2 separate regions of the Homo sapiens genome follow, and region 1 is linked to region 2. The links come from fine-mapping of genetic effects on gene expression. A gene starts in region 2. The other region holds a variant in brackets. All regions are shown on one strand. Distances are from middle to middle.

Evidence for each region.
Region 1: its variant is fine-mapped to the expression of FSTL1 in whole blood (TOPMed, PIP above 0.99).

Annotation. Positions count from the first base shown.
Region 1 is chr3:120,471,516-120,487,332 of GRCh38, reverse strand. It overlaps LOC107986121 (a long non-coding RNA gene), which reads right to left and starts at 180. Exons shown (of 3, transcript XR_001740868.2): 1 at 1-180. It also overlaps the pseudogene CDK2AP1P1. The variant T/C (reference allele first, on the strand shown) is at 9,029.
Region 2 is chr3:120,444,952-120,460,768 of GRCh38, reverse strand. It overlaps FSTL1 (follistatin like 1), which reads left to right and starts at 9,777. Exons shown (of 11, transcript NM_007085.5): 1 at 9,777-9,872; 2 at 10,023-10,085. The coding sequence starts at 10,023. LOC124900546 (a long non-coding RNA gene) reads left to right here and starts at 10,115. Exons shown (of 2, transcript XR_007096030.1): 1 at 10,115-15,817.

The DNA of each region.
Region 1 (15,817 bases), 27 kb before region 2:
AGGTCTCTCCACCCTGAGATGTTCTTGGCAACAGGTCTCTGTGCTGTGGGCCCCCTCCCATCTCTCTTAGTCATGTACCCTCAAGAAGAGGAGACCTGGCCAACTCCCTTCAGATCTAAGATGAGAGCAGAACTGAGTCCAGCATTTTCCCTTGAAATAAAAGTTTATCCTTCCAAAAGCACAGGCAACCAAAGTGAAAATAGACAAATGGGATTGCACCAAACTAAAAAGTTTCTGCACAGCAAAGCCAGCAATTAAGTGAAGAGACAACCCATGGACTGGGAGAAAATATTTGCAAACCATATGTCTGATAAGGGGCTAATATCCAAAATATATAAGAAACTCAATTGCAAGAAAACAAATAACTTGGTTTTAAAATGGGCAAAAGATCTGAACAGACAATTCTCAAAGAAAGATACAAGTGGCCAACAGATATATGAAAAAAATGTTCAGACATATCTAATTATCAGGGAGATGCAAATTAAAACCACAATGAGATATAGCCTTACATCTGTTAAAATGACTATTATCAAAAAGCTGAATGATTACAAGGGTTGGTAAGTATGTGAAGAAAAGGGAACCCTTGTATACTGTTGTTGGGAATGGAAATTAGTACAGCCATTTTGGAAAATAGTGTGGAGGTGCCTCAAGAAAACTAAAAATAAGGCTGGGAGCAGTGGCTCATGCCTGTAATTCCAGCACTTTGGGAGGCTGAGGCAGGCAGATCACCTGAGGCCAGGAGTTTGAGACCAGGCTGGCCAACATGGTGAAACTCAGTCTCTACTAAAAATACAAAAATCAGCCAGGCATGGTGTCAGGCACCTGTAATCCCAGCTACTCAGGAGGCTGAGGCAGGAGAATCTCTTGAACCCAGGAGGCAGAGATTGCAGTGAGCTGGGATCGCACCATTGCATTCCAGCCTGGGCGACAACAGTGAAATTCCATCTCAAAACAAAACAAAACAAAAAACAAACAAACAACAACAACAAAAAACACCTAAAAATAGAATGACCATACGATCCAGTCATCCTGTTTCCAAAGAAATTGAAATTTGAAATTAGTGTATCTAAGAGATACCTGCACTACCATATTCATTTCAGCATTATTCACAATAGCCAAGATATGGATTCAAATTAAGTGTCCATCAAAGGATGAATGGACACAGAAATGGTGGCATATATACACAATGCAATACTATACAACCTTCAAAAAGAAGGAACTTCTGTTCTTCACAGCAACATAGCTGGAACTGGAGGAATTTGTGTTAAGTGAAATGAGCCAGGCACAGAAAGACGAAATACTGTGATTTTACTTATATGGAAAATCAAAAAAAGTCAATCTCATAGAAACAAAGAGTAGAAGGTGGTTATCAGAGGCTGGGGCAGGAGAAGGGATAAGGAAAGGGACAATGTTAATCACCAAAAAGTACCAAGTTTCAGTTAGACTGGAGGGATAAGTTTTAGTGACCTATTGCACTGTATGATAGGTGACCACAGTTAATAATAATGTATCATATATTTCAAAATTGCTAAAAGAATAGATTTTTAACTATTCTTTTATTGTCTCTTCACTATTAATCTCCCAACAAAAAATTATGAGTTGGTGAGGTAGATATATTAATTAGCTTCATTAATCTTTCTCAAATGTGTATAAAACATAGATCAAAATATCACATGGTACCCTATAACTATTTGGTTATTAAAAGTATTTTTTGTTAATTAAATTTTTTTTTAAAATTCATCCTGGGAAGAAAGAAAGCTGCAACTCTGAGGCAATGTATATCACAACTATGAGAATAGGAGGGGTGGAGGAAGACAGTGAAATCCAGCCACATCCATCCTCTGTGGCCACCTCATGGACTTAACCAACCATCTCTATTACCTAATCTCCTAATGCCAGTTCCCCCAAGCTCCACCTTCTTCCATAAGAGACAGACAGCAAAGCCAAAGGTTTTCAAATCCAACAAATTAAAGTTTGAATTTGGGCTCTGCCAGTTATTAGACGTGACATTAGACAAACTATTTAATCTCCCTGAGCCTCAGTTTACTTATTTGTAAAAGGAGAGTAATAATACCAACTTGAAAAATTAAATGATTTGAGATCTATTTTACAACATGGTGACTAAATTTAAGACCAATGTATTGTATACTTGAAAAATGCTAATAGAGTAGATTTTAAGTGTTCTCACCACAAATAAAAGATAAGTACATGAGGTAACATGTAGGTTAATTAGCTTGACTTAGCCCTTTCACAATGTACATACTTCAAAATATGTTTTATACCATAAATGTATACAATTTTTATTTGTCCATGAAAAAAGAAAATAATTAAATGAAATAATGGGATATCTGACACATAGTGGGTGATCAATAAATGCTAGCTTTGTCCCACACCATTCCTTCTAATAAATTATTTTTGTACCCTTTCCTATATTCAATTCATTTCATTTTTCTATTAGCCTTGTTCAAATATGTTGGAGTGTGTGTGTGTGTGCATGTGTACATCTGTGTGTCTATCTGTCCTATTGTATCTTTCCTGGAGGACAGATGGATAAGAACGTGTATTAGGAAGCTACAAGCCAAAGTGTCCTGATATGCTGTGTGCACAACAGGGAACAGATCACTCTTGATCATATCTAGGGTTTTTAGCCTCTAATCCCAAAGCCCAAAATTCTCTGGGCTTCTGGAAGACAGCCACAGTTTTCAGCACCAGTCTGTGTGTGTGTGTGTCTGTGTGTGTGTGTGTGTGTGTGTGTGTGTGTGTGTGTGTGTATAAAAATCTGCTACTGGGAATGGAGATGAAAGAATGTCATACAAACTAAACTTGACCTTGAAAATGCCTACCACCTCCCTCAACTCAGCTGAGAGCTTGTCACCTTCCATGTCACCTTCTACCCATATGGTATTATTCTCACAGTACCACCAGCTGCTGAGTGACTATAGGCCACCATCCCTAGGCTACACCCAGGGAACTGGAAACAGCCAAGTGACCCCAAAGCAAATGTGCTAAACTGCTGGCTATCATCCAAGAGCTGAGGGAGTGATCAGATCCACCTGTACAGGGAGCAAGAGCACAATGAAGAGACCAAAACAAGTTATCACTCATGCTAAAGGACTAGTTTGGGAGTGCTTGGTTAAAACAGAATGGAATGCCAGATTCTAACCACCTTCATAGTTTTGCGAGGTATTCCATCTTTTTACAAGATAGGAAGTTACAGTTCATCTCCCCTGTCCAGATGAAACATGTTTTCAAAATGGTAATCATTTGGTTTTTCTTCCTGGTTTCTTTCCCGTGGCTCAGTAGGTTCTCAAACTAGCAAAGATCTTACAGTTGATTAGGATTTGCATTTTAAGTAGTTAGAGCTACTCAGATTTTTTAAAGCATTGATTTAAAAGATGCAGGTAAAAGTTTTTTGTCCTACAGCAAACTGTTGCTTGCCTCCAAGATACCAGTGTTGCACATTAATCTTCTCTTTTGAATACATTCATGCACCTAAATTGTTTTTTGTTCCATTCCATAAAGTAATACACCTCTATGAATTTTATTTTTGATGAATACTGACAGCACTCTTTACTTAGTAGCCAGTCCCTGGTTTGCCATACAGTATACATTCTCTATAAGTTCTTTTTTGCTTAAGTATTGCATCACTATCAATGCTTTGAAATTAAAGATGCACAAGTTATAAATACAGAATAAGGAGTAACCAACTAAACTTAACTATTTTTTACTAAGATTGTATGTAGATTTTAGTTCTATGTTTGCTGTAAGTTCATCAAAACATATTTCAAAATGACTAAAACTACTTGCAGATTTATATGTATTTATTATTTGATGTAATAAAGCTTATGTTCATTAACAATAAGTAAATAAAAATAAATAATTAGACCCTAACAGATGAACAATTACATTAAATGCAAATAGTCTAAATGCATTAACTAAAAGAGATTGGTAGATTGGTTTTAAAAACATGATCCAACTAAATGCTCTGTGCAAAAAACTTGCTTTAAATATAATGATATAGGCAGGTTGAAAGTAAAAGGATGGAAAAAGATATACCATGCAAACATTAATCAAAGGAAAGCAGAAATGGTCATATCAATCACATAGACTTAATATTAACAATATTCATAAAGTAGACTTCAGAACAAAGAAAATTACCAGAGAAGGATACTATGTAATAAAAGAGTCAATCTACCAATGACATATAGCAATCCTACATGTGCTTGTACCAAACAACAGAGCTGCAAACTATGTAAAGCAAAAATTGATAAAACTGAAAGGAGGCCAAGTGCAGTGGCTCACACCTATAATCCCAGCACTTTGGGAGGCCGAGGTGGGTGGATCACCTGAGGTCAGGAGTTTGAGATCAGCCAGGCCAACATAGTGAAACCCCATCTCTAACAAAAATACAAAAATTAGCCAGGCGTGGTGGTGGGCACCTGTGGTCCCAGCTACTCAGGAGGCTGAGGCATGAGAATCGCTTGAATCTGGGAGGTGGAGGCTGCAGTGAGCCGACATCATGCCACTTCACTCTGGCCTGGGCAACAGAGCAAGACTGTCTCCAAAAAAAAAAAAAAACTGCAAGGAGATATAGAGAAATCCTGAAGGAAAAGCAGATTTGAATCTGTTCAGAGGATTGGAACCCAGAGAACATGACAAGAATGGAAAACCATAGAGGCTTTACCCTCCAAAGAGGCAGTGGGCTGAGCTCAGTGAGAGACAGCATCTGCTAGGTAAAACAAGGCCTGAGGATGCTGGGAGAGTATAATATGCACGATGATGTCAGACACATATTGCTGAACCTTTTTTTGACTCAATAATTATTTTAATGTATATTACAGAAAAAATACATTGGGCACAGTAGGTAGAAACATGGTTACACAGACCATATAAATTAACAGACTCTGTCATGAATGTTTCAGACATTCATATACTGAACATTTCAGCATGACTTTTATTTTTATTTATTTATTTTTTTGGAGACAGTCTCGCTGTGTCACCCAAGCTGGAGTGCAGTGGTGCGATCTCAGCTCACTGCAACCTCCGACTCCCAGGTTCAAGCAATTCTCCTGCCTCAGCCTCCCAAGTAATGGACTAGAGGCGCCCGCCACCACACCCGGCTAATATTTGTATTTTTAGTAGAGACAGGGTTTCACCATGTTGGCCAGGCTGGTCTTGAACTCCTGACCTCAAGTGATCCACCCACCTTGGCCTCCCAAAGTGCTGGGATTACAGGCGTGAGCCACTGCGCCCAGCCTCAGTATGACTTTCTGGAAGCAGGGATGGTAAGAATGACTGCTCCCATCGTTTCACCCCTGGTAGTCTAGATGGGCTATCATTCCCATATTAAGATTGCATCCAAATGGCGGTGGACTGCCAAGGTGCCCCATCTGTATCACATCACCAAGCAGGGGCACCACTCATCCTGAATTAAGGAAGCATCTAGGTTTAATGCCAGCATTAGTCACCCAACTGGCCAATCTTAAGCCTAGATCAAGGAGTTCTTCACATGTTTAAATCATGCAGCTATTTTTTGTATGCATCTTATAAATATTTATTACTTGATTGTCATGGTTTTAAAAATTTTACCTTTTAAAAGTATAACTTTTTTGTTTTCATCATGTTTATAGAAGCAGTACATTGAACAAGTGTGACTGTGACACAATCAAAATCCAACTTCGTTTTCTGTTTCCTGTGTCAACTCTAAACTTTATCCAGTGGGGAAAGCTTTCTTTCTACCACTGGAAAATAACCCAGCAAGCCTGGTATATATGTGTGTGTGTGTGTATATATATATATATGTGTGTGTGTGTGTGTGTGTGTGTGTGTGTGTGTGTGTATATATATTTTACTAATGCTTAGATAAAAGACAGTCTTACAGACTTTTATGTGCAAACTCAGTCTTAATTTGGTAGTTTGAATATCAAGTCCTAGATATTAGTCAGCTCTTCCATTTTCTTCCTGTTCCCTAGGCAAGGCTTCTACTTGACAGCTGCCTGTTTTCCAGAAAGGGAGTGTGGTTGGTTTCTGCTCTCCCCACTCACTTCCTCCTTCACTTGTTAGCTGAAGTTTGACTTCTCTCAGGGACAGAAAGGGGCAGGCTGGAGGGACAAGAGGTATAGGTCAAAGGACAGTACTTGCTGGCTAGTGGCTGAGAGCTCTCTGGGTCAAGCAGAAAGTCGAACGTGGCTACCTGCCTGGGCACTTTCATGGAGATTTCCATCATTCCATGGTGCAGGGTACCTAATGATGTCTAGTTCAAGTGGTCATTGATAACTTCTTTGAAAGCCTCTAAAAAACAGCATTCCCCTCTGGCTTCTTCTTGCTAGAAGAAAGCAAGAATTCCTCCAGGTCACTCAATTAGGACGGCAGGTCAAGACTAACACAGTAACTTCTACATTTTCTTGGGTGGGAGTCAGGAGCCATTGTCCTATATCCCCTAAGTGCAGAGAGCACCTTCCATAGCTCTCCTTGTAGTTCCAAGGAAGCTTCTTGCACTAGGTTTCTTTTTTTGTTTGTTTGTTTTTATTATTGCACTACGTTTAAGGAGAAGGCAGTACCCCCTCTCTTGGGTCTCTAGCATAGCACCAGGTCCCTCCTAAAAGGTCTTCCACAAATCCTCCTCTCTCTTCACATTCTGACTTATTTTAAATATCTTTGATTGAGCTAAGATATCCAAAAATCGTAGAACAAGCTCTGCACAAATTCCTTCGTAAATTCACATGTGAGGAGCCTGTCTCACATGAACTTTGGTAATATACCTACTTTATTGAAGCCTCAGTCAAAAATGTGGTTGGAAACCTCATTCTAACATCCTGCTATATTTATTTGTTTGATTACCTTCTATTTTTAAAAAGTGGACCAGGCATGGTGGTTCATGCCTGTAATCCCAGCAATTTGGGAAGCTAAGGCAGGTGGATCATTTGAGGTCGGGAGTTTGAGACCAGCCTGGCCAACATGGTGAAACCCTGTCTCTCCTAAAAATACAAAAGTAGCTGGGTGTGGTGGCATACACTCCAGCCTGGGTGACAGAGTGAGACCCCATCTCAAAAGAAAAAAAAAATAATATCTTTTTTCCATTTATGATAGAGAACTTATTTTTTAAATTAATATACTTGATTATATAGTGAATCAATTTAAAGAATAAATATTAAATAATGAAATACAGGAGATACATATATAGGACTGAAAACATAGAGATGGTAGGCTGGGTGCGGTGGCTCACGCCTGTAATCCCAGCACTTTGGGAAGCTGAGGCGGGCGGATCATGAGGTCAGGAGATGGAGACCATCCTGGCTAATATGGTGAAACCCTATCTCTACTAAAAATACAAAAACAAAATTAGCCAGGTGTGGTGGCTGGCGCCTGTAGTCCCAGCTACTCAGGAGGCTGAGGCAGGAGAATGGCATGAACCCGGGAGCTTGCAGTGAGCCGAGATCATGCCGCTGCACTCCAGCCTGGGCGACAGAGCGAGACTCTGTCTCAGAAAAAAAAAAGAAAAGAAAATGTAGAGATTGTATATAAGTCATAGTCATAGTCATCATATATTATAAATCAAAGGTATTTTATAAAGATTAATTTAGTGCCAGGCACAGTGGCTCATGCCTGTAATTCCCAGCACTTTGGGAGGCCAAGGCAGGCAGATCACGAGGTCAGGAGTTCAAGACCAGCCTGGCCAACATGGTGAAACCTTGTCTCTACTAAAAATACAAAAATTAGCTGGACGTGGTGATGGTGGCGCGCGTCTGTAACCCCAGCTACTTGGGAGGCTGGAGCAGGAGAATTGCTTGAGCCCGGGAGGCCCCCCAAGGAGCTTGCAGTGAGCCGAGATCGTGTCATTGCACTCCAGCCTGGGCAGCAAGAGCAAGACTCACTCAGTCTCAAAAAAAAAAAAAAGAAAAAAAAAAAGAAAAAAAGATTAATTTAATAGAAGCAAGAAGAATATGTTGAAAGGAGGAGCAACTTTTTAAGTTGCTTTTTAAGTTTTAAGTTACCATTTTATGTTAACTTTTTATGTTAACATAACTTATGTTAACAGACCGTTTTATGTTAACTAGTTTAAGTTACCGTTTTATGAGTCCTGAAGACACACACAAATACAAGATTATGAAGAAGATTTAGTAGAGGTATGAGTGACACTTGGAAGTCGAATGCTTTCTGAAAGTTCAATTATAACACAGACTGCAGATTTGCTTGCCATATTCTCCAACTTATAAGGAAACTGGCCCATCCCTCCCAAATAAATCTTAAATAAAAGCAGTACATTCAAAGGGGCCTCATTCCCTATCATTCCCTAGCCACAGTTGATTGTTCCAGGATGGGAAATTGGTTTGAGTTTGGCCCATTAGACATCTTCATTAGGAATTTGGAATCATGACCAAGAGAATAAAACTCAGTTTGATTTCCCCCTTCAACAGTGAATGGATTCACTATTAGCGTGCCAGAAAATTATATTTCTGAACTTGTAGGATGGACAGTCCTCATCTCAGATCCTAATATGTGTCACTCAAACTTGTAGAAATGAATGAACAGAAAACCAGAATTCTGATTTCTAAATTTGTAATAATAAAATGATTTAATAAACTAGATACTTTGATGTACAGATCAGCATATTCTGTCACTGTAAGTGAATCTATATAAGCAGCCAAATCATCAGAAATTTTCATGAAATCAGAACAAGAGATGCTAGCTGAGTGATCGTGGCTGGTGGACCATGATAACCTGATGAACCCACCTCTTCCAAGCGGATCTACTAACCTTGAGAGCCAAATCCTTGTGTTCTTTAGTTCCGACTGCCTTTTATTTGACCCACTTACTGGTTCTAACTTTTTATTCTTCCACTAACAGCTAACCCACTTTTTAATTGAAACTTTGCTTTTTAAATATCTCAATAGCGGTAGCCTGAATAATGGCCCCCCAAAATATGTCTACATTCTTATCCTAGAACCTGTGAATGTTACCTTGTTGGACGAAAAAAAGGTCTTTGCAGGTGTGATTACATCAAAGACCTTGAGATGAATGGGAAGAT[T/C]ATCCTGGATTATCCATATGGTCCTAAATGCAACACAAGTGTCCCTCTAAGAGAGAAGGGGAGGCAATTTTAAAAAGTGGTGGTATATACCAGATGGTAGAAATCAGCTTTCTCACATTCTAGGGTGATTGGTAATGGCTTGGAGGAGAGATGTCCAGCAGGGACCTTTTGAAGGACGACCATCTGTACCTTTGTAATAAGGGAGATGCCTGGAAGGCAGCAGGAGCTTCTCAGGACTGCTTTGCTTTTTGTTGTTGCCAGTGTTGCCTAGGAAAGTTCTTCACCTTGTTGATAAAAACTGGTTCTGGTTTCCATCTTTTCCATACTTGTGAGCCGACCTCATAGTGTTCCCTTGGAGACACCAGCACTAGCCAGCTGTCCCCCCTCCTCAGAGATCTGAGTTTCAGCTACGTGGGTCCCTCCTCTGAGTTCAGAGGCACCAGCAGTGACAAAGAGCCCCCAGCCTGGCTTCAGCTCAGCAGGGCCTCTCTTCTAAGCTTCTAGATCCAGATCACGCTGCCTCTTCCCTTATTTCCCCTAGCCCTAGGAATGGTGGCTGCTTCTTGCAATTACGTTTTCACACTTTACCTGGACAGTCTTCCAATACCTGTTTAACCACTTTCTTAAGTTATTTCTGAAAAAATAACTAGTGTGGCTTTTGTTTTGTTTTATTTTGTTTTGAGACAGGGTCTTTCTCTTGTTGCCAAGGTTGGAGTGAATTGGCGTGATCTCGGCTCTCTGCAATCTTTGCCTTCTGGACTCAAGCAATCCTCCCACTTCTGCCTCCCGTGTAGCTGGGACTACAGTTTGCACCACCATGCACGGGTTTTGCCACGTTGCCCAGGCTGATCTTGAATTCCTGGGCTCAAGCAATCCTCCTGTCTCAGCCTCCCAAAGTGCTAGGATTACAAGTGTAAGCCACTGTGCCTGGCATGTTTTCTTGATTAAACCCTTTTTATTAGAGCCACAGACAGAAGATGAGAAGGCAGCATGAACACAGAGGCAGAGATTAGAGTGATACAGTCACAAGCAAAGGGATGGCAGCAGCCACCAGAGGCTGGAAGGGGCAAGGAACAAATTGCCCCCTCGAGTTTCTTCTTCTTTTTTTTTTTTTTGGAGACAGAGTTTCTCTCTTGTTGCCCAGGCTGGAGTGCAATGGCACGATCTCGGCTCACCACAACTTCTGCCTCCCAGGTTCAGGCAATTCTCCTGCCTCAGCCTCCTGAGTAGCTGGGATTACAGGCATGCACCACCATGCCCAGCTAATTTTGTATTTTTAGTAGACACGAGGTTTCTCCATGTTGGTCAGGCTGGTCCCCCTCCAGCTTCTGAAAGGAGAATGACCTGAAGGGAGCACAGCCCTGCTGACATCCTGATTCAGGCCTGGTGATACGGATTGCAGACTTCTGGCCTCCAGAACTGTGAAAGAGTAAACTTCCATTTTTTAACCACCCCATTTGTGGTCATTTTTTACAGCAGCCAACGGAAACTAATACACCAATGCTCACAATTTCAGCTTGAGAGCCACCCTTTCTCTTACAGGTGTCTTTACATGCCTGAATTCTAATTCATTGTATCTGTTAAGTAACTGGTATACAAGTAACAGCAACTGACTTTAGCTACCTCCTAAGCAAAAAAGGGAATTTGTAAATAGTGTACAGGGGAGTCTGATAGAGCCTGAGGTCAAGGATGCAGCTGGACCTCAAAAAAAAATGGATCCCTTGTAATCCCAGCACTTTGGGAGGCTGAGGTGGGAGGATGACTTGAACCCAGGAGTTTGAGATGAGCCTGGGCAACATAGTGAGACCCTGTCTCTACAAAAAATAAACAAAATTAGCTGGGTGTAATGGCATGCACATGTAGCCCCAGCTACTCAGAAGGCTGAGGCAGGAGATGGCTTAAACCTGGGAGGTCAAATCTGCATTGAGCTATAATTACACCACTGCACTCCAGCCTGGGTGACAGAGTGAGACCCTGTATCAAAAAACAAAAGCAAAAACGAAAACAAAAGCAAATGGATCCAGGCAACCTGGGGATCGTCTTTCACAATTGCTCTTCTCTGCTCCTTTCTGAGCATCTCTCTGCTTCATGGCCTCTCTTGCTGCTGCCTGGCTTCCTCTGTGACTCAGCCCGCATAGCAGATAATGGCTTCTACCAATGCTTTCAGCTGTAAATTGTGTTTCCTCAGCTGTTAAATGAAGAACTTGAATAATACACTCCGCAAGCTCCATCTGGCTCTGAAATTTGATGGAATTCTATTAGGAGTCCTGTGCAGTGGATGACAGGTGGGATCCTGAGGAATGGAGAGCAGGCCTGTGTGAGACCCAGCTGTGCAGGAGCAGGCGCACCTCAGGAAGGTGGCCCAGTCTGACCTTAGAGTGCCGAGTGGGGATCTCTTCAGGGGCCTAGTGAGATCATGGGCTCAGCCACACTGGAGAAGAGCTGGTGACACCTGGCATCAAGGTGGGGCATCCTGAGTCTGCACCTTTAGGCTGGCACTATCCACTTATATGCTGATGATTGGCAGAAACTCCAGGTTTGTCATTGCCTATCTCTAATTAGCATCAATAATTTATTCATTCCTTCCCCTGTTTTGATAGGAAGAAGCCCCACCCCCCGGCCTTTTTTTTTTGTTTAATAAAATGAGTTATCCTGCCAACCCCCACCTAACTATTCCCACAGAGCACCTGCTTGAGGTAGGTTCAAATCAGCCCTCAAGCCACAGTGTGACTAAACACATCTATGCCCACACAGAGAGTTCAGGAAATTCAACTCCACCACCTGCCAAGACACAAAACCTCACTGTAGGCCTCTTAGCTTCTTACTGATCCTGATTTGCATCTTCTTTCTGATCCCGGGATTTGGAGCCAGCAGAAAGCCCAGGGGATTTCTTGCAGAGGCTAAGGTGGGCTTCAATGGTGGGGATATCTGTGTTCCCGGACCTGGCCTCAAGCTGGCTCCTGGTCTTCATGAAACGAAACAGCCACCTTCCTTACATGGATTCCGCCATGCACATCCCACTTGACCTTGTCTACTCCAGCCAGACTAAATTGCTTCCTGTTCATGGCTTCTCTCTTCCCTCTGGGCTTCTAAATTGCCCTTAGCCAGAAATTCCCATTCCCACCCATCCCATCATCCAGGTCCTTCACCTGGATAGCTTTCATCTGCTTATAAGATACTTCCTTTGGGACATGCTCCCTGACCCCATCTCACTGAGGTTACCCCTATGTGTTCCCACAGCACCCCTTACTTGTCATTAAGCTTCTCACTCTGGCTGGCAGTCAGCTATTTACTTTTTTGCCTCCTTCCACCAACTGGTAATTCCAAACTTTATCTTTTTTACCTACATCTCCTGTACTTAGCACAGAGTCTGGAACATGGTGGAAGCCCCATAAATGTTCAGTGATGACAGGATCAAGTGCACATTTACTCACTTTCATCACCTTCCTAGGGACCACCAGCCCCTTCCATGTTTCCTACTTTCAAACTGTGGCCCCTTTCATATTATAATGAGTATTTCATCATGAGGCATAGTGAAAAATGAGATGCTGAGTACCCTAAACACAGAAGAGGCAATGTTTTCTTAGATGAGCTGCCTTTCTTGTTCACAATGAACTAAAGAAGGTTTTTCTAGGCATGGCAGATATTCTGGGAGATTCAGGAAGGGATATAGGGAGAGAAACCAGCCTTTCCTGCATCCCAACTTGAACCCTGAAGGGAGGATTTCCAAACATTCTCCCAGCATTGTTATGGGATGACATACATTCACCCGCTCTGAGTTCCTCTCATGGCTTTATTTATCATGCTCCCATAGACTGGAAAGCAGAAGGAATTCATTTTAAGACTTCAAATTATGTGCAGCATTTGATTAAATCTATCTTGAGAAACATCACTCATTGGCCTGTCTGGAGCTATTGTTGTGTGGTTAGCTCAGCACATATTTTCCAAGCACAAAATAAAAGGGTTAATGTGTGGAGATTCAGAAGAAGTCTCTTATTTGGCACTTGTACCAGCTATGAGATGGTTCCTCAGAACCATCCCACCACTAAGCAAACCAACCCTCTCTGAAGGGTCCAAGCTACTCCCCACATCCTCAAGATTTTACAGGAGCTGTGGTGCACCTCAGGGAGGGGCTCCCACTCAGGAAGGAGGCATTTTTCCCTGCATGGAATAAGCCATGGAAAGAGTCCCAGTTCTACAGGACTGAGAATATGACTTTAAAAAAAAAAAAGCAGCATAGACATAATCACTGCTTCTGTAGAAGCCACATCATTAACTTCCAACCCCCAAGTGAGTGTCTGAGTTGGAGAAAGAGAATGAAAGAAAAATAAGGTCCTGAGGCAACAAGAAGGAACCCTTACTTGACTCTACAGAACTGACCGTGTCTGATGTGCACACGTTATATTACTCTAGACCAGTGGTTCTCAACCGGTAGTGATCTTGTCCCCAGGAAACACCTGACAAAGTCTGGAGACATCTTTGGTTGTCACAAATTGGGGAGTGCTACTGGCATCTAGTGAATAGAGTTCAGGCTATTTGAAAAGGCTTCAAAAGGGAGGATCTAACTCAGGCTTGCGGGTTAGAAAAGGCTTCCTGAAAGAGGCATATCTAAGATACACCCTGAACTACCAGTGAAAGTTAATCAGCTAAAGGATATGGTGGTTCATGGCTTTCTGGAGACTTTCCCCCTTCTTCCTTGATGTTGACCTCAGTCCAGCACATGTATGAATTCCTCACATTTTTCTGGGTGACAAGATTTAGATAAGTAGCCTCATTCTCAGCCCTGGCCTCCAATATTCCCAGCTTCTCTTCCCCATTCCCCTGCCCTACTGCTGAGGGGCCCCCTGCCTTGTCGTTGGACACCACTACATACAACCTGGGGCTCATCCTCACTCCAACACCTGCAGCTACATCAGGTGGTACCAGGTTTCCCACCTTCATCACTCCCTGCAAGAAAGTAGCCACCTCAAAAGTGCCAAAGAACCGTTATTCTAGAAACAAGTTAATTTGAGTTCATGCATTTATTGGTCTGTCCCTCACTGTTTACCTTCTTAAGCACTGGTTCTCAAATGTGGCTTCACATTAGAATCACACAAAGTTTTAAAAATGACTATGTCCCCAGAGATTCTGACTTTGTTGGTACGGGTGCAGCCTGAGCTGCAGGAGTTTTACACTCCTCTCAGATTATTCTAAGAGGCAGCAAACACCAAGGACCACAAAGCCCTGTCCAAGCATGTTGGGCCGCAACATGGAAGCAGTACACTGATGCTCTCTGGCCCCACACATGCAGCCAATGCTCTCCCACATAATCTTCCCACCTTGCCCATCTGCTCCGACTAGTCCTGCCTTGGTCCCCATGGAATTTTCCATTCATTACTCTTAATTTTGAACAGCATTATCAGTTCTCCCTTTCAACTCAGGGTCTGTTCAGTTGCCTTAATCACCTTCCCATTCCCTATATTCTATTCTACCCAAGTACAACCTTACTTCTGCTTCCCCACAACATAAGATCGTTTATCTTCTTATCACATTCCCCTATGTGTAAATTTATTGCTGCAGTGGCAATTTACCACATACTTATTGACTTAACACATAAATTTATTCTCTTACAGAAATGGGTTTCACTGGGCTATAACCAATGTGTCATCAGGGCTGTATTTCTTCTGGAGGCTCTACGGGAGGATCCATTCCCTGACCTTTTCAGCTCCTAGAAGCTGCCTGCATTCTTCGGCTTGTGGCCCCTCCCACCATCTTCAAAACTAACAGCATAGCATCTTCTAATCACTAGTTCTCTGACCTCTGCTTTGTCACTTCTCTTCCTCTTATTCAGACACCCTGTCTCCCTCTTATGAGGACCCTTGGGCCAATCTGGATAATCCAGAATAATTTTCCCATCTCAAGATCCTTTACTTAGTCATATCTGCAAAGCATCTTTTGCCATGTAAAGTAACACATTCACAGGTTTGGGAAATTAGAACATGGATATAGATATCTCTCTGGGGGTGGGGGGTGCATTCTTCTATCTACCACACCCTGTTAAGGCAGCTGTCAGCTTTGTAATCTGTCAGCTTTCAAATACCTAGAGGTTCTGAGATCTTTAAAGATGGAGACATTGTAACACTGGACTTTTTGGACCTATTTCCAGTAAAATGAGAAGGATGAATCAAGCCAGCACAGCAGGTGACGTTGGTGGTGATAGTAGTGATTTTGCACCCCTCACCCTGGGGATATCTGACAATGTCTGGAGACATATTTGGTTATCTCATGTGGTGGTGGTAGTAGGAGGTTACTACTGGCATCTAGGTGGGTTGAGGCCAGCGCATGCACAGAACAGCCCCTCTACAACAAAGAATTATCTGGCCCCAAATGTCAATAGTGTCAAGGTTGAGAAATGCCGAATTAGACCATTCCTACTCAAAAATGTGGTCCGTTAACCAGCAGCCTGAGTATGACCTAAAAGCATTTTAAAAATGCAGAATCTTGGGCTCTGGCCCAGAGCTATTGAATCAGGGTATGCATTTTAACAAGATCCTCAGGCTATTCTATACATATTAAAGTTAAAGAGCAATGGACTAGAGCAATGATTCTCCACCTGGGCTGCATATTAGAATCACTTTAAAAAAAGACAGTAACCTGAGTGTAAGACTCAGATCACAGATTAATTAAATCAGAACCTCTGGATGTTGGAAACCAGGCATTGATATTTGTTAAAAGAACTCCCGATGATTCTAATGTGTAGTCAGGATTGAGAAGCTCTGTCCTATGATCTCTGAAGCTCTGCTATTCAAA
Region 2 (15,817 bases):
TAAACCTGGGAGTGGTCTGGGGGACCCCAACACACAGCCAATCAGATCCACAGATTTTCATTTGTATTAGGGTAGCCTATCTCCTCACATTTAAAAAAGGAACTACAAGTCTCTTCCCTGCAGAGACATTACATTACTCCTCTCTGCCTTCAATTACAGCTATACATTCATTACCACTATTTAAGTCGGGAACTTGAAAGAGTCAGCTTTCTTTGGAAGTAGCCATAAGAGACTAAAACTTTAATGAGGGCAAAGAGAAGACATCAAGGGGCACAGCCAGCTGGAGGAGGCTGCCATCTGATAGGCTCACTCTGAGTGGTTATTCAGCCGGTTAGTGGCAGCACTGCTATTTACCATAAAAAGCTGGTTAAAATGAGCATTTTCTGTCACACTCACACATTCTTAATGAGCCAGATTCTTCCACGGCATGACCTTTTTGTGCAGGTCAGCTCCTTTGAACAGCTGCATTTATCCTCTTCCATTTTTAGGTTTTGCTGGCACATTAAAAATAATACCTAAGGGTCTGAAAGAAGCCCTGTCGTTGCTCAAAATTGCCTGACTTACTCCTGGGGAGTAGCCCAGACCCTGAGAGAATCTCAGTCCATGAGGTTTTATGATAAATGTCAGTGATTATGCTGATAATAGAATGGTCCACCAAAACTAGTCAAGGGAAGGCATTTTCTTTTCGGGGGGAGGAGGAAGCATGAACTGCTTCCTGTAAAGCCTACAGCTAGTGCTTTAGCATCCTGCTTCTTCTCCCAAGGGTGGGAGTGGGAGAGAAGAAAGAAAGAAGGTATAGGAAGGAAACGGACTACAAGGAGGGAAAGAGAAGGAAAAGAAATGGTCAGAGAATGAGGCAAAAACTCGCTTCAGCTTTGAGCCTCTGGCCGTGAAAAATTCCCATCCCCAGGGGTCCTCTGAAAAGTGCTCAACCCCACCCATAACCTAATGCCACCGGGTATACTTCATGCTGCCCCTGAGGCCATCCCCTCATCCGGCCCACCAGGCTTACTCTAACTGTAGCTTACAGTGGGGTGGGCCCATCATTTTGATCAAACAAGCAGCCTTTCTAGTCTCCTCATAAATTCTAAAGGCAGTTGTTTAGCCCTGTCTGGAATATCCAATGCCCTGTGCTCAGGAACAAGTCTGTGGTTCTTCTGTCCACAATCCTACATGTCTTCATGATGTCCCAAGCCGGGAAAGAGCCAAGAACCTGGACAGTGGTTGTTTTAGTCTGCCCAGGGTCCCTTCTTTGGAGAAACCTCTTCCTCCGTGCCATGTGGTTTGTGAAGCTATCAGTAAGAGTGTGCAGCCTGCTATAGGGATGGTATCATGACCCAAACGCAGCCAACCACAGGAATGCCCCCTTGACAGTGTGCTTTGTCCAAGGGGTGGGCACATGACACAAGCAGGGCCAACCAGAACCCTCCCCTGAGTTGGATCTATGGACCAGGAGAACAGACTCTTCTGGCTAGGCTGCCAAGGCTGAAAGGATGGCATTTTAGGGCTTGCACCAGCTATCTTCTCAGCCACATGGAAAAACTAAAACAGCTGAATAAGCTGAGAGTCTGGGTGTGTGTGTGTGTGTGTGTGTGTGTGTGTGTGTGTGTGTGTGTGAAAGAGACAGAGAGAGAGAGAAACTTACATCATTGAGTTCTGCATTAGTTTGTTAGTGCTACCACAACTCTGGTAATTTAAACAACAGAAATTTATTTTCTCACAGCTCTGGAGGCCAGAAGCCTGAAATCAAGGATCAGCAGGGCAGCACTCCCTCAGTAGAGTCTGGGGAGAATCTGTTCCTGAATCTTCCAGCTTCTAGTGGCTGCCAGCAGTTCCTGGCATCCCTTAGCTTGTGGCCACATCACTCCATCCTCACATCACCTTCTTTTCTGTGTATCTTTTCTCTCCTGTCTGTGTCTAATCTTGCTCTGCCTCTCTTTTATAAGAATGCATATCATTGCATTTACAGCCCACCCAGATAATCCAGAATAAATCCCTCCTCACAAGATCCTTAAGTTAATCACATATTTGCCATATAAGATAATATTTGCTCTTTTGCCACATTAGATAACACTTACAAGTTCCAGGAAGTGACTCTATTTTGGTAGGGGTATGCTTTTTAGTCTATCACAAGTCCCATTTGAGTCCCCAAGACCTTAGATTCTGCAGTTCTTCCTTCAGCCCCATGAGCCACCTCAGTAGACTCCTCATCAGCCAGTAAGTTCCTTCCTGGCCCAGGCTAGCATGAATTGGTTCAGTCACTTGTTTTAAGGGTGTCTTAAATAACACACATCCCCATGTCTGCAGCAGGCTGGGCAGTGGAGGAAGTAGCAAGGTGCAGTAGACAGAACATTTGCTCTTTCATGAGTGTTTGGGAAAATCACTTCCCTTTCCCAGCTCTGCTGTTTCATAATCTTTGCAAATATTAAGCTTAAAGGACTATTGCATTTGTTTATGCTATCTTATTGTTTTAAACACCCTGTAATTATATTTACGACTTGATGATCATTTAAGGTTTTTTTCAAATGTGATTTAAAAGACCCAACCTAAGAGGCTTGAGCAAAAAGAAGCAGGTAACAAACCTAAAAGTCTAGAGCTATATCAGGTACAGCTTGATTTGAGGCCCTGATGATGTCACTGGACTCCATCTCCTGGTGCTGCCTCTTCAGGATTGGCAGTATCTCAGGCCCAGGTGGTGGCCCCCTGCAGCTTCAGAGTCACACTATCCAGTACCCAGGCCAGCAGAAAAGAGAGTCAGCCTCCCTAATGAGTAAACAAGTCTTGGAATTGGATTTCATTCACTCTACTGGTCTGACTTCTGTTGAATTCCTATTCAAAGTAATCACTATGGTCAAGAGGATGAAATGTAGTGATTGGCTTATCCTAGGCCATTTGCATGGTTGAAAAGTGGAAGAAGAATGATACTCTAGAGGGAAGGTGGATGCTGTTACCTGAAGTGTGGGGAAAGCATGCTGGGTGTGAAAGGAATCAGTGTGTACTGAATATTATGACATTAAAATTTTTATAAAATCCATTTATTCTTTGGGAGGCTGAGGCGGATGGATCACAAGGTCAGGAGATCGAGACCATCCTGGCTAACATGGTGAAACCCTGTCTCTACTAAAAATACAAAAAAATTAGCCAGGCATGGTGGCAGGCACCTGTAGTCCCAGTTACTTGGTAGGCTGAGGCAGGAGAATGGCATGAACCCAGGAGGCGGAGCTTGCAGTGAGCCGAGATGGCACCACTGCACTCTAGCCTGGGTGACAGAGCAAGACTCCGTCTCAAAAAGAAAAAAAAAATCCATTTATTTATCCAAATGAATAGGTCTGCCAAGCTTATAATGAATAGATGGATTATCATAAATCATACTTTTATAAATATAATACAAAAACGTATACTACCAACTTGCAGAATTTTCCAAATTAATTTGAAGGAGATCATGTGAGTTTAGTACCTTTAGACAGGGCAAAATAGGCATACATTCAAATTATGCATTACTTTGGATATGTCAATAAACACAAATATTTAATAAGTACTTTATTTCCCCAAGTTGCTGATGAAACCATCTTGTCACAGATGCTCTCAATGATTACACAAATGTCACCCTGAACATGATTAATTAACCATAATAAACACTGTACTCAACTCTTGAAGTGTTCTTTTGGCCTCAGTGTGAGATTCGATTTTCTGTAGCCATAGTTTGCAAACTTTGCAGTTACATACTACCACCAATAACAGTGAGGCTAATATATACATTATAAAACATGTAAAATATGAAATGAGTTAAAGATAAAATAATCAACATGCTTTTTTTTTTTTTTTTTTTTGAGATGGAGTCTCTGTTGCCCCTGCTGGAGTGCAGTGGCATGATCTCAGCTCACTGCAACCTCTGCCCCTTGCCTCGTGCCTCAGCCTCCCAAGTAGCTGGAATTACAGGGGCACACCACCACACCCAGCTAATTTTCTGTATTTGTAGTAGAGGTGAGGTTTCACCATGTTGGCCAGGCTAGTCTCGAACTCCTGGCCTCAAGTGATCCACCTGCCTCAGCTCTGAAAGTGCTGGGATTACAAGCGTGAGCCACCGCACCCGACCTAAAATAATCAACATTCTTTATTTTACTTATCAATGGTGAAAACACCTTTATGATCTCATTGAAAAAAAATAGTAGTACATTTAGTGATGGTGTTGTCATTACTTCATTTAGAATATATTTGCTAGACTGGGCATGGTGGCTCACATCTGTAATCCCAGCACTTTGGGAGGCCAAGGCAGGCAGATTGCTTGAGCCCAGTAGTTTGAGACCAGCCTGAGCAACATGGGGACACCCTGTCACTACAAAAAATACACAAAATTAGCCAGCATGGTGGCATGCACTTGTAGTTCCAGCTACCCAGGAGGCTGAGGCAGGAACATTGCTTGAGCCTAGGATGTCGAGGTTGCAGTGAGCCATGATGACACCATTACACTCCATCCTGGGTAACAGAGTGAGACCCTGTCTCAATAAAGAAAAGAAAAAGAAAATATTTGCTTAACATTTTGTGACAGAGAGCTGAAGGTCCAATTCTAAGCCCAGTTTATTTTGATATTTGGTATTATAGCTGTCAGAGCTGAAAAAGCTAACTCAGTGTTATGAGCTGAACTGAGTTCCTTCTAAATTCATGCTGAAGCCCGAACCCCCAATGTGACTGTTCGGAGATATGGCCTTTAAAGAAGTAATTAAGGTTAAATAAGGTCATAAAGGTAGAGTGCACATTAGATAGGACTCATGTCTTTGCAAGCAGAGGGAGAGACACCAGGTAAGAGCCATATGAGGACACAGGGAGGAGGCAGTCATCTGCCTGCCAAGGAGAGAGATCTCAAAAGAAATCAATGCTGCCGGCACCTTGGTCTTGTTATTCTGGCCTCCAGAACTGTGAGAAAATAAGTTCCTGTTGTTTAAGCCACCCAGTCTGTGATATACTTTTATGGCAGCCCTGGAAGATGAAAGCACCCACAAATATGGCTGTATTGGCCTGACTTTGGTCAAATTCCTACTCTTAAAGTAATCACTATGGTCAAGGGGTTGAAATGTGGTGACTGACTTATCCTAGGCCATTTGCATGTTTGAGGAGTGGAAGAAGAATGGTACTGTAGAGCGAAGGTGGGTATTGTTACCTGAAGCATGGCGAAAGCAAGCTGGATGCGAAAGGAATCAATGTGTACTGAATATCGTGACATTAAGACACTCTACAGATCTGGATGGAAGATGTGTACCATTGGCTCACCCACCAAATTACTCATTTTCCAGTCCTATAAACCATTCATGCGAAGGTTTTTTTGTTGAAATTTGGCTCATAAATTCCCATCTGCTCTGGAAATCAAAATTAATTGAAAGGTTTTTTGTTTGTTTGGCTGGTTGGTTAGTTTTTGTTTGTTTGTCTGTTTTGAGGCAGGGTCTCTCTCTGTCACGGAGGTTGGAGTAAAGTGGTGCAATCATGGGTCACTGCAGCCTCCACCTCCCAGGATCAAGTGATCTTCCCACCTTGGCCCCCTACTCCCCCCGTAACTGGGAATACAGGGGTATGCCACAACACCCAGCTGATTTTTATATTTTTTATAGAGACGGGGTTTTGCCACATTTGCCCAGGCTAGTCTCGAACCCCTGGGCTCAAGTGATCATCCCACCTCAGCCTCCAAAAGTGCTGGGATTACAGGTGTGAGCCACCATGCTGGTCCCAAGTTATTATATTTTTATATTTTCAACAAATGAGTAAATAAGCCACTGGAATTCTGTCTGAAGATTTTTAAACAGGTTAGAAAATTTTGTGTAAGTTTTTAAAATGTGCATACACGAGAGTTTTTATGGTGCCACACTTTTATTGTTTTGGATAACAAAATAGCCTAATGATAAGACATTTCCAAATATCTCATTTCAAAATATTTTCTCCACTGCATAGTTTATTTTTGTCTTTTGCTTTATTTATTGTAGAGTTAACCATACGCCACAGCACAGTTTTATCATCAGTACCTGTAAGAGCTCTCTAGTGAATTATTTCCGTAGTAATACATCTTATTTATATGCTTACTGTGTACCAGACACTATTCTAAGTACTTTACATATTGATACATTTAATCTACACAATAGCTCTATGAAATCAGTACAATTATCACGATTTTACAGATGAGGCAACTGAGATGCAAGGGGTTAAGTAACTTGCCCAAGGTTACATAATAAGTAGTAAAGCTAAGATTTACTACCAAGGCAATTTTGTACCAAGGCAGTCTGTCTCATAAACCCATGCTTTTAATTGCTACAGTACACCACAAAGATTGCACTAGTCACATGCTAACACTGATATTGTCCAACTGTCTGATTTTTGCCACTGTGATGAGTGTAAAGTGACATTTATAATTTACTGTATAACTTTGGACAAACTACTTAAACTCTGTGTGTGTTTCTTCATCTGTATATTGGAGATAATAAAATAATACTGATTTCAAATGGTTGTTGTGCAATTTAAATAATAGTAGTGATGTTGAGTATCTTTTCTATATTTATTGTCCATTTGGGGTTCCCCTTTTGGGAATTGCCTATTCATACCTATTGCCCTTTTTTATTGGGTTTTCTTTTTCTGATTGATTTGCAGGGTGTGTGTATGTGTGTGTGTTATGAGTTACATGTCAGTTTTAGACATTTATATCTCCTTCTATCATTTTGTCTATGGTGCCCTCAGTTGAACAGGAATCTTTCATTTCATTTTGATATACTCAAATCCATTAATTGTGTTCCAAATGTAGAGAGGATAAAGATATGAAAAACATTGTTTTTGCTCTAAGCAACTTAAAACTAGCTGGAGAATCAAGAATAACTATGAGAACAAGTGTTAAACATTGTATAGCAGTCTGCAATATAATGCCCCAAGTTGTAAGGCTGTGTAGCCAACAGTATAAACTTGGGAAAGTATCTAAATCTTCCTGAGCTTCAGTTTTATTTGGAAAACGGAAGCAATAAAAAAGACCTTTCCATTTACTGTATTTTTTAAATTTTTATTTTTTATTGTTATTATTTTTTTGAGATGGAGTCTCTCTCTATTGCCCAGGCAGGAGTGCAGTGGCACAATCTCGGCTCACTGCAACTTCTGCCTCCCGGGTTCAAGCAATTCTGGTGCCTCAGCCTCCCAAGTAGCTGGCACCACAGGTGCCCACCACCATACCCATCTAATTTTTGTATTTTTAGTGGAGACGGGGTTTAATCATGTTGGCTAAGCTGGTCTCGAACTCCCGGCCTCAAGTGATCCGCCTGCCTTGGCCTCCCAAAGTGCTGGGATTACAAGGCATGGGCCACCGTGCCCAGCCTCCTTTCTATCTATTGTGAAAATTAAATAAAATAAGAGATGTTGAATGGCTTTCATAGTACCTGGTGTATAGTACCAACTACAATTTAGATGCAAAGCCGATCATGAAATAATAATGGCTATCACATACAGAGGTCTACTACCTGCCAGGCACTTTTTATATGCATCTGCTTAAATTTCACAACTCCCTGCAAGGCATTATCACTGCCATTTGTCAGAGGCAGAAACCTAGGTTCAGAGGGCTTATTATTTGATGCAAGTCAGGCCATGCAGCTAGTAAATGGCAGTGATAGGATGGAAAGCCAGATTGGTTTGACCTCAAACCTCCTGTGCCTTCTACCATGCCAAGCTGTTGTCAGAAAAGATATGAAGGAAGCAAACTTGACGTGGTTCCTGAAAACAAAACAAACAAACAAACCCAAGCATTTTAGTAGATAAGAGGAAGGGAGGAAAGATGATACCAGATTCTGAGAGGGTGCAGTGGATCTGCAAGGGATGCAATGTATTGTGCGTTATTCGAGGGCAGAACTTTATCCACAATAGTTCCCTTCAATCCTTGCACAGTGACCAAGACAGAGTATCTGGTGCGGAACATCTATTCCCTAATCTTATTACCATAACAAGGGAGCAGGAGTAAGTTGTCTGACTGGAGAGTTTGAAAGAACTGGGGATGTGTCACTCTACCCCCTCAAGTTTGGGGAGCAGGCATGTCCCAGGAGGCACATATTTTCTGCTTTTCCATGCAGTTTAGTTTTTACACAGGCAGGTTTTCCAGCTCTGCTTGTGACTGAGTGGACATGTTCAATTCTGGGCCCGCTGTCCCTGCAGATCTAAAGCCATGGCTGCCATTCCAGCCTTTAGCAGAGACAAAGCTGACATTTTGCTCTCCATAAGTCTGACTCCTGTTGCTATCTCAGTGGATTCTGAACTTACATGGGGACCATGGGTATTATCTTGAAGCCCCCTAAAGCCACAACAGTGGGCACTCAACAAACCTTGGCAGCAGAGTGAGTATGACAAGTTCAGAGGACAACGAGGAGATGGGCCTGCTTTGAGCGGAGGAAGTATGCTGATGTAGTTGAAGAGAAGTTAGATGGACAGGGTGGGCCCAGTAATGCAGGGCTTATAAGAAAGGCAGAGTTTGGATTTGATGTGGGTAGAAGAACGCTGAAGTTTCTGAGTAGAGGAAGAACATGAACACGAGGAAGACAATGTTTAAAATAAGGGAAAGAATATGACAATGGATTGCAGTGGAGACTACAGGGGAGAGCCTGGAGTCAGAGGACAACGAAAGGAGGTTTCCAGAATTTCTGAGTGAGGGAGGATGAAGGTCTGGCCTAGGAAAGTGGACATGTGAACGGAGGCGAGGGGATGCATATGAGATCTCAGCGGCTAAACTGCCAGGCTATGGGTACAAGCCGGCTCTGAGAAAAGGAGATAGGTTTGAAGGCAACCACCCTGAAAGAGGTAGATAAGCAGGCCCTGAAGCTGGGGGAAGTGAGGCTTAGTCTTGGGCATGTGAAATCTGAGTTGCTAAGTGGATCTGCTCTCCTTACTAGTTATGGCAGGAAAGGCGCCTTAATTAGGAGCATTTTAGGGAGTTAACCCTGTCAAAGAGGTAGCACACTTTCGAAGGCCAAGGGCTGGGAAGAAGGTGGTGAAGATGGCAATCCTGAACACAGAGGCTACTTGGGATGACAGGGATGGGAGGAGGGACACAGGTGATGAGTGAGTGGGCGGAAGAGAGGAGGGGGACACCGCTCCCCGGCCCGAGGGAAGGAGGGGATGAGGCTGCCGGCAAACGCTGGACTCAGGATCTTCCCAGCAGAGCAGGGCGGCCGCCACCTCACCCGGGACAATGCACTGTAGAACCCACAGCAGCCTTCCCCACGCCGGCCGGTCTTCCCGGCCCTGCGCCCACTTCCCGGTGCCCCGCTGCCCTGCTGCCGTGACCCCGGGATGCGGGGTCTCCTCTGCCTCCCTGGGCCTCCCCCTTCAGCCATGGGGGGCGGCTCCGCTTCCTAGGCCGCGGGACGTCTTTTCCTCCAGGTTCCAGTCCCGGACCTTCCCGGGCCCCCCACGGCACCGCCCACCTGGCCACCGCCGCAGCCCGCCCGGGCCGCCGCCAGCCAGCAGCCCCTCCCGGGGTGGGGTTTCCCTTCCCCCTACCCCTTTGTGGCAGGGACCCACGGGACACCCCCTCTGCCTCCGCTCCACGTCCAGGGGGCCGAAGGGGCGCCGGACGAGGGACCGTGCGGAGAGAGGGGTTCGGCGGCGCCAGGACTCCCGCGGGCTCCCCGGAGCAGGGGTCGGAAGGAGGGGGAGCGGGAGCCGCGGGGGCCGCTGCAGCAGAAGGGGGAGGAGAATGGGGAGGAGCTGGGGGGGCAGGCAGGCGGGGAAGGAGAGGTCTTAAGGGGCGGCGAGGGGAGGTCGCATTTCCTCCGAGGCTGGCGATCGGCGGAGCTCCCACCTCCGCTTACAGCTCGCTGCCGCCGTCCTGCCCCGCGCCCCCAGGAGACCTGGACCAGACCACGGTGAGCGCAGGGCGCACGGCGCGGAGGCCGGACTCTTCGGGCGGCCGGGGGTGCTTGGGCGGCCGGAGCGAGCCTGCGGGACCCGAGCAAGTTTCCCAGGTCAGCGCGGGGCCCGGCGCCTTCAGACTCGCTCTCTTCTCTCTTCCGCAGATGTGGAAACGCTGGCTCGCGCTCGCGCTCGCGCTGGTGGCGGTCGCCTGGGTCCGCGCCGAGGTAGGCGAGGGGCCGAGGAGTCCGAACTCGGTCCCCGGGGCCTCTTGGGTCTGCGCGCTGGGCGGGTGGGCGCGCGTCCTGGGGATGCTCTCCCGGGGTGGCGCTGGGAGTTTCGGTCCTTGGGGTGTGCTGGGGTGGAGCTGGGGCAGTAATGCTGCTTACGAAACTTAAATCTTTAAAGCAGGAAAAGTAGTTCGGGCCGTAAGCGGGAGCCCCGCCGCGGCTAACATGGAGGGAGAGCGGGGAGGAGGAGAGGGGACGGGCTGGGCCGACGGGGACGAGGCGGCGACTGGAGCAGCAGCGAGTTCAAAAAGGCGCCTCAGTTCCGTCCTTCACTTCAGAGGAGACTGAGAGTAGTTGGGGACTTTTCCCTCCCAAGTCTGTCTCCTGGGGGCGGGGGCAGAGGAATCGGGATTCTTCTTTTGGGGCAAAATTAATTTTCCTTTCTCTCTTTTAAAGTGAGATCATGATTCTCTGAAATGTATTTTCTTCTTTGTGAAGTGTCCTCGGGTTTTGTGTTATCATCTGGGCAATGTAACGGCCTTTTCCCAAGTGTTCCCTGTAACGTTGCGCAAGTGTAAGAGAAGATCCATTGCTCTGCTCTTTGGGGGCTCGAGTTTCCAGTTAAAGCATTTCAGCGCTTGTTTTTTTGTACCAATTTTTTCAACTCTAACGACCTTCCTGAGACACTACAAACAAACCAACAAACTCTTTGCTCAGAAGCCGCTCCATTAACTCAAAGGTTTATGGACAGAAAATAAACAATTCTAAATTCCCCGGGCTCCAGTCTCCAGGAAAGTGAGGTCAGAAACTAAACATTTGATAATTATGGCAGGAAATATGGAAGGAATTAAAAAGCATGAGGGAGAAGAAATGGAATGCACATTACAAAAGAAATAGCTCCCTGGTGGGTGGTTTATGCTCCCTGTTTGAATTTTTTCCTTCATATTACAGTTTAACCACACCCTTAGCATCGCAGCTTGACTCTGCCCAAAAAAGTCATAAATGCATACAAGGTCTTCACAATTTTTAAAAAATACGCATTGTACTGAATTCTCATTTAATTCACTACTACGTTGTTGATTGAGGTGGAAACTCAATCAACTGTTTTTACTGCCAATGAAATAAAAGTAGCTAATATTTATTAAATATCTGCTATGTTGTAATAAAATTCCATTTTAATGACAGATAAATTGAGTCAGCGAAGGTTACCCAATGCTCTCAGCTATTAAATGCTAAGGGTGGGATTTGAACCCAAACAGTCTGGCTCCGGACCCAAGGCTCTTGACCATTAACCCACACCACTTCCAAGCACAATGGTTTAACATTTACCAAGTACATTTTTGTTTACCACACACTGGGCTGTGTACGTTACCTGCAGTTACTTCTTTTAAAGCTCCCAAACCCTGTAATGTAGGTTTTATTATCCCGATTTTACAGAGGAAGAAACAGGTTTAAGGAGATTAGGTAACTTGCCCAGGGTCATACAACTAGTTAGCTCTGAAGCAGGATCTGAACCTACCTCTCTTACCTTTGGAGCCCATCTTGAACTCCAGGTCTGCTTCTTATCCATCTGGTTTTCCAGGGTTTGCATTTGAGAGCGTATCCCCCTTCACTGGCTGATGTAGCCCTGGTTAAGAAACATTTCTCCATCCCCTGCTGTGGCCCTCAAAAGGCAGTTGCAGACCAGTGATGGATGAGGTGAATCCCTGGTTGGTTTTCCAGCAGGCTCAAGAATTGCCAGCCAGTGTGTGAAATCACTCAGTGAACTGGAATGCAAATATGAGGTGTGAGGAGGCTGTTGGTTGACTTACCAGGCTGTGTGGCCCAAGGTCTGGAATCTATTCTAGGCGGCCTGCAAGACACACACCCCTCCCAACCCCCTTCCACACAGGGAAAACTTATCCCTGGTAGGAAGTTCCCCCAGCAGCAATTTCCTGCTGGAGGTAGAAGAGCATCCAGTGCTCTCACATAATTCCCAGGCAAACTACAGGGAAGAAGGCAAAATAGAGAAGTACTGAGATGTGAAAACAGAGTGCGTTGGGGGAGAAAAGAGGCTGTGAACTCACAGTGTATGGAAATGGTTACAATGAAAAGAGTGAGGGGTAGGTATGAGCTAGGTTACATTTCATGGCTCCAGGTTATTAAGGATTATTATCTTTTAATTATTCCAACCTCCTGGTGCCTGGCCAAGTAAGATTTGGCAAGTTTTTAATCCATTTAATAATAATATACCTTTAACAATTGATGAAGAGGTACATTAACCCTCTCCCTATGGGAATTGTAATTTGGATTTTTTAAAAGCCTTTTATCTTGTAGTTAATGGTGCTTGCTGTTTAAATTTCTTCCTTGTTAACTCTAAGGACAGTCTGCAAAAATGGTCACATCATGATATTTACAGTCCTTAGTGACAATCTATTTTAGTAAACTTCAAATCGCTAAAATTGTACAAATATTGTTGAACTTTTTAGAAATGAAATTTAGAAAATAAATTGAGGCTTCTTGGTGCTTTCTGCTTTTCTGCGACCATAAATATTTAATTCAGCATATTTTTAAACAATTTAATCACTTTACAAATCATGTTGATATTTGAAGAAGCCAGAGCCTCTGTAGTAAACCAGAATCAGAGGTGCTCTCCACTTGGGAAAAGGTGATTGTCATCAGTATTAATGCCAGTCTATGTCAATCCCATTTGGTTAGATTCACAAAGCTATTAACAAAAGTCATAAAGGAGCCTGGGCTCAGTGGCTCATGCCTGTAATCCCAGCACTTTGGGAGGCCAAGACGGGAGGACTGCTTGAGCCCAGGAATTTGAGACCAGCCTGGGCAACATCGTGAGACCATATCTCTACAAAAAATAAGAAAATTACCTGGGCATGGTAGCACACACGCCTCTGGTCCCAGCTACTCAGGAGGCTGAAGCAGGAAAATCACTTGAACCCAGGAGGTTGAGGCTGCAGTGAGCCGTGATGGTGCCACTGCACTCCAGCCTGAGCAACAGAGTGAAACCTTGTATTTAAAAAAATAGAAACAAACTCATTAAGCAAAGTGTCATATTGTTTTGAATGTGTTCCATGGTGTCCTACTTCCTTGGCACCTCAGGGTTGCTTTCTGATTGCTTCTTCTCTTTCTTACCTGCTCACTCTCTTACTACTCTGTCTGCAGCATATACCTTCAGCCAGCCTCCCTCCAGATTCTGCCACATCCACCTGAGCACACACACCCATGCACTCTGTAGTCTGCTTGAAAGAAGGTACTGGGTGTAGCATATGTCTCTAGATGTGTGTAGATTAACATGTGAATGGACTAGGCAGAGAGGGCAGCAGCAGAGGGAGTGCCTGCACTAATAATTACACAGATATCCCTTTTCTAGATTCTCTGGGGAGAGGACTGTGTGAGCCTGCTCATCTACTCTTTCCCATCCCCCTCCCATTGGGAATTACTACAGTTCATTGAGAAGTGTTGATGGTGGATGCATAGTATGGAGCCTGGGAAAATGTTAAGAACACAGGCGGTAGTGTGTGTGCCCTTGAAGCTCAGTCAGTGGATATCTGTCACTCTAACATGGCAGGCTGGAGAGAACCCTGTGGCCCAACTGCCTGCTTTAGGAAGACAGCCCTGGCAAGTACCCAAGCATACCCCCACTCTCCCTTGGTGGATGTCTCTGCTGTCACTATGATTCCCAGCATTCCAGGTCTAGAAATTCATTATGATAAGTCACATGTACAGTTAACTGATTTGTAGTTCAGAATCCTCATTCCAGTAAGGGATCCATGCTTGACCCATGAACTTTGAGTGTATTACCTAAGAGAGAACAATAGCAATTCTACAAATAGATGTACTTCACTTAGCTCTAGACATGCAATACTAGAAGATTATGAGGGCTTTGTCCTGAGGCCACGTTTCTTAACCTCACCGTACCCTATTATCGGCATTGTACACTAGGGGTTATATTTGGGAGCTCCTCTATGTTCTTTAGAATTGTTCTGATGGTAGACTCAAGTAAGCCTTGCATCTAACCCATATCTCTGACTGCATCTTCTTGGTGCCACAACTTGTATTATTAACAAAGCTAAAAAGATCTCTAAAATGATCTCTTGCTTGTTTATCCTTTGGCAAATAAGCTACTTGTTGCAGTTCTAAAGACCATTGCTGGAAATTGGGGTGTAAAACATAGCAGGGGCTGTGCAGACTAGCCAGAACAGAAGGGCAAGCACCCAGCATAGGAGGCCCTGGCCATCGCAAGTGGCTTTAGAAGGTGGACACGTTACAGTTCCCCTAGAAGTCTCTGGATTGGGTGACAGAAACCAGGACTCCATCCCCAGGCTCATAGAAGCAAGTTGGAGAGGAACCATGAGGTGAAGATCTGGTCATGGGCTGAAGTGGATGTAATGATCCGAGAGGAAATGCCCCAAAGACGAAAAGAAAGTCTTTGAAGTCAGTGGGGCAGAGCAACACATGCTGCCACAAGAATAGGAAGTAAAGGATGAGCTGTAAATTACCAGTGATCACATATGAGAATTGAAAATGTCATGGATTCTTTGTCTTAGTCCTCTTCAAATAACTGGACATCTGGCAGAATGTTTCTAACAGACATAAATTTTATTAGCTTAATGATACCAGTTAATAGGGAAAAAAAGTACATTAGATAGGTTCACTTTGTAAGCCAGATGATTAATGTCCTCAGAGGGCAAATGCATACTTTTTGTTTAGGATGCTCTATTCTGACTCCTGCGATTTTGGCAAGGGGTGCTTTCTCTGAGAGTATGCCATGAATGGCGTGGCCTTCCCTTCACTGTCCTCATCGAGCCTATCCCCTGCTGCAGCTGAGCGCACCTGGTACTCAGGTCAGAGTCACAGTGAAGCACAAGGCATGGTCTCTGCCCTCACATTATTTACAGTCTAGTGGTGGGTCCAGGTGCTTTAAATCGTGGCAGCTACAGTTTATATTATTATAACTACATAGTAACTAGTAGCTTTATACTTATTGCTGTTTTTTTTTTAATTTACATTAATGTAGGGCCTTCCTTTGTAAGATCCTTTTATGGTAGCAAAATGCACAAATCTTCCATGTATAGCTTCATGAACTTTTACATCTGGCCCATGTAGGCACCATGCGACAAGACTGAGGGAGTTAGTACAGAAAGGTATGAACCTGTATGTTACCATGAAGTTACATACAGGAAAAGTTACCATGAAGAAAATGAGGGATAGGGATGATCTAGGGTACATTTCATGACTCTCTGCCCAAAGATGGCTATCTTTTAATCTGTCTCTTCTCTTGGTGTCTAGCCCAGGTAACATTTAGCAAGTTTTTAATCCATGTTTTAACAACAGCAAACCTTCAATAATTAATGAAAGATAAATTAATCCTCTCTATATGAGACTTACTATTTGGATGTTATTTTTAACATTTTAACTTGTTAACAATAAATGGCTTTCCTTGTTAGCTACAAGGATGTGCAGCAAACACAGTGAAATACAGCCTTAATTGACATTAATCCATTTTAGTAAACTTTAGATCTGCTTTGGGGAGCTTTCTTGACTGTTTTGTGGATGGATAGATATTCCAGGGCTCACTGTAATCTATATTGAATTCCACAAAGAACTCAAATCATTCTGTTAGACCACTTTGCCCTGGTCATTATTACTTTTGAAAGGACTCTACATAAGATGTCAGTCATGTTATTTATGACAGCAAAAAACTTAACATTGACTACATAGTCAACCGT